2 separate regions of the Homo sapiens genome follow, and region 2 is linked to region 1. The links come from fine-mapping of genetic effects on gene expression. A gene starts in region 1. The other region holds a variant in brackets. All regions are shown on one strand. Distances are from middle to middle.

What was found. PIP is the estimated chance that this variant, and not a neighbour inherited with it, causes the effect. A credible set is the group of variants that fine-mapping cannot tell apart.
Region 2: its variant is the best candidate, but not a certain one, in a credible set for the expression of TDRD3 in whole blood (TOPMed, PIP 0.76).

The regions. Positions count from the first base shown.
Region 1 is chr13:60,396,050-60,398,855 of GRCh38, reverse strand. TDRD3 (tudor domain containing 3) reads right to left here and starts at 1,636. Exons shown (of 14, transcript NM_001146070.2): 1 at 1,451-1,636. The coding sequence starts at 1,491. RefSeq lists enhancers at 785-834, 1,715-1,914, 1,764-2,276, 1,985-2,314, 2,645-2,714 and a silencer at 1,005-1,574.
Region 2 is chr13:60,454,329-60,457,134 of GRCh38, reverse strand. The region is part of intron 3 of TDRD3 (tudor domain containing 3); the gene reads right to left. Among named protein-coding and RNA genes, the nearest start is that of TDRD3, 59 kb to the right of the region's middle. The variant C/T (reference allele first, on the strand shown) is at 1,448.

The DNA.
Region 1 (2,806 bases):
GAGATTCCTATTGAACAGAAACAAAACTGAAGACAGTGTTTTTAACTCTACAATCTTTTACGCCCATGCTGTTCTGCGAAAAAACTGTAACAACAATAACGCATAAGCGTTAAAGGAACCAGGCCCAGAGCCAGGCCCTCTGTGCTCAACATTCAACTCCACCACTTTCTAGCTATGTCATTTTGGGAAAGTTACTTAACAGCTCTTTGCCTCAGTCTCCTCACCTGTAAAATGGGGTGTATAATAACACAAGTGCCTTTAAAATCAGGAGGGGCTTCTTCAAAGCACAGTTGTGATTATATCCCTCTACTGATCAAAAACTTTATTCACAAAATCAAATCCACATCTTTCACGAACCATATAGATCTTGTGTAGGTTCTGCAAAACAATAAGCGCTTCCCTGTGTCATCTCCAGCAGCTCTGTGCTAGAAAGCCTTTTCCTTACCATCTTTCCAAGTCCACTTTAGGAAAGTAACTCTCCCTCCCATTCCACAGTGCACTCATCTGTTCCTCTGTACGTACGGTTTATCACTATTCCCCCTGGTTTTGTTTGGTCTTTTAATGCCTCACTCTTTCTCCTAAAGCAGTAATTGCAGAGAGCCGTTGCAAATCTTTTTCATCCCCGTTCCTACCCTTCATCCCAGAATGTGCCTGTGCAAGCCTGGGAAAAGCGTTACTGAATTAAACGGGATGATTACAACCGTAATGGCCGCAATTCCAGAAACTGCCTAATTTCGCATAATTTTGTATTGTTTTCAAATCCTGAAAATCTTGACACGAAAGGCCTCTTAAAATCAGAACACCATCCTTTCAAGAAAAGTTCTACCGAGCACCCCCACGAGTTGACATTGCGGTCATTCTTAGCTCCAGAAGTTGTGTGTGTGCCGCGGAAGGCAGATTCACACTGGTCCACACTGTACTTTGAAATAAGGGGTAAGAAGAGGCGGCTCCGGCCGCAGCGCGGGCTGTGCTCTGCTCTGCCCTCAACTTCCTATGGGCCCGCGGGCTCCGGCCGCGTTCGTCCCTCTCCGCCGCACTTCGTTCCCAGCCCTCGCCTCCCGATCCCGCTGCAGAAACACCCCCTCCCCGGAGAAGCCGCGCGGACGGCGCTGCAGGTCCTCCCCGGCGCTCCGGTCGGCCGGGGTCTGGGCCGCCACCCGCCCGGCTCGCGGCCCCCGGCCTCTCCCCAGGCCCGCCGCCCGCCGCCCGGGGCCCAGGCCCGCCGCCCGGGGCCCAGGCCGCCGCCGCCGCCGCCTCCAGGGGACCTAGGGGAACTCGCAGGGCTCCGCGTGGCGCCGGGGGCGGAGCCGGCCCGAAGGGCCCGGGGAGAGGCCGGGGGCGGACGACAGCCTCCGCCTACCCCGACACGCACCCCGCCGCCCCCAACCCAACCTCCCTGGGGCCCCGGCCCGCACCCGCGGCCCGGCAGCCGGCGGGACTCGCCACTTACCAACCCGCCTGGGACAACGCCGCGCCGGCCACCTGGGCCATGGTAGCTGCTTAGGCCGGGGGTGGTGGGGGGCTGGGGTGGGGGTGATGGGGAGGCCTCCTACTTGAGACCCCCCCCCTTAAAAAAAAAAAAAGAAAAGAAAAGAAAAAACTCCTCTGGTCGGCTCTGCAACTGGGCATGCTCAGTGCGGCCGGCGCTTCCGCGTGCGGGTTCCGCTCGCCGCGTTTTCTGAGCGGCCGTAGGGGCCGGCCTGGTGTGGGGCTCCCAGGCTGCGGAGCTCCGGGACCTGATCCACCAAACACCGGCTGGTGGCTGGAGTCAGGACGGTTCAGGGACTTTGCCTCTTCCCCGAAGGCTTTTACTTGTTTTGGGGGGCGCTTTTCTGAGTTGCACACCTTGGAAAGTCGCGAGGAGGTTCTTCGTAGAGCAAAAGTGTGGCGTTTGCAGCGCCCACAGGCGGCCACCTCAGAGAGGGCAGGATAAGGCCTGAGGAGACTGACGGGTTGGCTGCGAGGGAACGCGTCCAGGACCGCGCTAAAAAGGTCACGTTGCGGGCAGCAAAACTCAGAGGTGTCCCCAGCCCATTCTGCACAAAAGTTTACTTTCTTATAAACACTCGTTCCCTTCACCTCGCCTTTTGGTCCGCCCGGACGCAAAGAAAAAATGCAGCTCAAGCTTTTTTGAGTCCCCGCGGGCAGATCGAGTTGCCCCAGTCGGACACCACAGTGAAAATGCCCTGGTCAGCCCAAGAAAACCTGCTTTTAGGGGACATGGGGAAATGGGGCAGTTGTGTCAGTGCTTGTTTTTCCTGTTGCCCTCCCCCTGGGACCATCCGTGTCCTAGCGCGGCCCTGCCACCTTGGCTCTGTACTGCCAGATCTGGCAACCACAGCCGCTTCCCCGCCGATGCCCTTCGCCCGCGCTGTAGAGGGCTGGGGCGCAGGGTGGGTCCCTGAGTGGGCATGCGCGCCGCCGTCGCCCAGCGGCACGGCGGACGCTACCGCGCGATTGGGCGTCCGTGACTCACGCTGGCCAATCAGAGAGGAACAGGCGGAAGGGTACGCGGGCCCAAGAGGCGCTCCCTAAAAGTTTGCTCCACCTTCTTGGTCTTTCACCTCTGCGGCGTCCCGTATTGCGGGGAAAAAGGCTTCTAAGGGGCAGCGTCCCCATCTGCCAGGTCAGGGGAAGAAGACTGTTAGGAACTTAATCCCTATCTCCGCCGCTTGCCGCTGCCCCTGCTTCTAAGGGCATCATCAAAAACAGACTTGGAGCAGAGACTGCGGAACTGGGCAGAGGCGCTCTTGGGATTGGGGAGGAAATTGGCAGTTACGGAAGGAAGGGGATAATTGCCCTGGGT
Region 2 (2,806 bases), 58 kb before region 1:
TTCTGCTTACAATATTCAGTTTCTTATACTCTGTAGTTAAAACATAGGGAAGTAATGGACCTAGATAAAATATACATAATAAAATTTTTTAAATGTTATGGTTCTAAGATCCTAAATCCTGAATCTAAAATCATCTTAAGGCTGGGTGCGGTGACTCACACCTGTAATCTCAGCACTTTGGAGGATGGAGGTGGGTGGCTCGCTTGAACCCAGGAGTTTGAGACCAGCCTGGGCAACATAGGGAGACCCCATCTCTACAAAAAATACAAAAATTAGCCAAGCGTGGTGGTGTGTGCTTGTAGCCGCAGCTACTTGGGAGGCTGAGATGGCAGGATCTCTTGAGCCTGGGAGGTGGAGGCTACAGTGAACCACGATTGCGCCACTACACTCTGGCCCAGGTGACACACATACACACAAAAAGGTGTCTCAAAAAAAGTCATCTAAAACATCCACAAAAATAGACAAGAATTAATTTCTAAATCTTTCTTCAACTACTGTTAAGAGCAACTCCAAAGTAAAAAAAATACCAATTTCAAATGAAAATAATAAAAAGGATTAATCTTGATCACCCAAGTCTTCTTTAATGTCTGATTTTCTCTTTTGTATTAGTAATAAGAAAAAATCAAAAGAAATTACTCTAAAAAATTTTAGTGGCTTAGAAAGATGTATCATTGCACCTCCAGGTAAGCATGTCTAACTCTAACAAACAATATTAAGTATCTGCTAGAAATATTCTCTCAGGCCATTAATCCAGGCATCATTCCTTCTTCTCCTGAGGTAGACGAATACCTCTGTCATCTAAACTCCTAACTAGTCATACCAACGGATATGAAATATCAGATTTAAATGGTTGTGTTAATTTATTAATTTATTGATCATACTAAATAACATTCTTGTCTATCAATCAGACTCCAAAGTTTGGATGACAGGGGACTAATTCTCTACAGTATAATCACATCTGGATAAACACTTAAAACAATTTTTTTTTCTTAACTCTAGAAACCATTTAAGACACTTAACCTGAAAATACATGCCAGCCATTAATCTTTTTTTTTTTTTTTTTTTGAGACATAGTCTCACTCTGTCACCCAGGCTGGAGTGCAATGGCTTGATCTCGGCTCACTGCAACCTCCGCCTCCCAGGTTCAAGTGATTCTCCTTCCTCAGCCTCCCTAGTAGCTGGGATTACAGGTGTGAGCAACCACACCCAGCTAATTTTTCTATCTTTTTTAGTAGAGATGGGTTTCACCATGTTGGCCAGGCTGGTCTCGAACTCTGGACCTCAGGTGATCCACCCACCTTGGCCTTCTAAAGTGCTGGGATTACAGGCGTGGGCAACCATACCTGGCCTGTTTTTGTAATCTTATTAATTCTCTTGAGAAAGAAATTTCTCAATCTGTATACCTAACAACATAAGCATCACACTCTCCATCAACCCTAGAAACAAA[C/T]CATACACCCAAAAGGAATATATGAGTGTGATTCAGTTCCAATCAATGTTCCACCATTATTGCAAAGTAGATTAAAATTAAGAGAAAATGAAATAGTTTAATCTTCCATAGTTCTTTTATCTACTTAAAGTCTTAATTCATTTCCTTCTCTACCCCATCACTACTTCCAAAAGCATTTCCAGTGGCTTCAGGGGAGATTTCCTAGGGATCATTTTTTCATCCATTCTTTTATTTCAAGGGAGGTTTTTGACTAAATTATTCACATCTTTACCTTAAGGCCCATTGCCCTTAACAGGGCAATGTTTCAAGAAAGCTGCCTTGGAAGAAGAAATACTAATTCTGCCTATAGCTGCTTTAAAAGCCTGAAAGATAAGCTTTAAATAGCACTTATGACGACCTCTTTTTTACCTACTTTCTCTGTCAAAACATCTCTTAGTATCATTTCAACACAATTTGACTTTAATAAATAAATATAAGCCAGGTGTGGTGGCACACACCTGTAATCCCAGCACTTTGGGAGGCTGAGGTGGGCGGATCACCTGAGGTCAGGAGTTCCAGACTAGCCTGACCAACATGGTGAAACCCCGTCTCTACTAAAAATACAAAATTAGCCGGGCGTGGTGGCAGGCGCCTGTAATCCCAGCTACTTGGGAGGCTGAGGCAGGAGAATCGCTTAAATCCGGGAAGGAGAGGTTGCAGTGAGCCGAGATCGCGCCACTGCACTCCAGCCTGGGCAACAAGAGCAAGACTCTGTCTCAATCAATCAATCAACCAATCAATCAATAGAGGTGGGATAGGAAGAGAGAAAAAAATAAAGTCTGATTTGTCACATACACCCTGTACCATTCTACGTATGGTATCAGACCCAAGAAAACAAAAATAAAAAAAAAAAAGAAATATACATTGTTAGAAATTTCAGAAACATTCCCAATGTCATCCATGTACGCATCTAGGGTGAACCCCAATTTGGGCTACATTTCCCTCCAAAGAAGATGTTTGCTTCTGGCAGTAACAACACTGCAACTAAGAGTTTCAGCTTTGGGCTGGTGGCCAAGGGGCAAAGTTAACCTTAGCCAGCACTTTAACTCACTGTAAGTCAAGTAGCACCCCCACTAGCTCAAGGCAGAAAGAAGCACATATCCCTTCTAAAAACAAAACAAAACAAAAAAGCATTTCTGATTCAAGTGGCCAGGATTCTCACAGAGAAAGATCAAGAAAAATGAAATCATAACAAACTATCATGAGACTTACAAGGAAACAAGCTACGAAGATTGAGAAATATTAAAAAAAATTATTAAAAAAAATTTTAAGCCCCTAAGGACTTGAGAATTTGTAAGTATCAAACACAGACTACAAAAT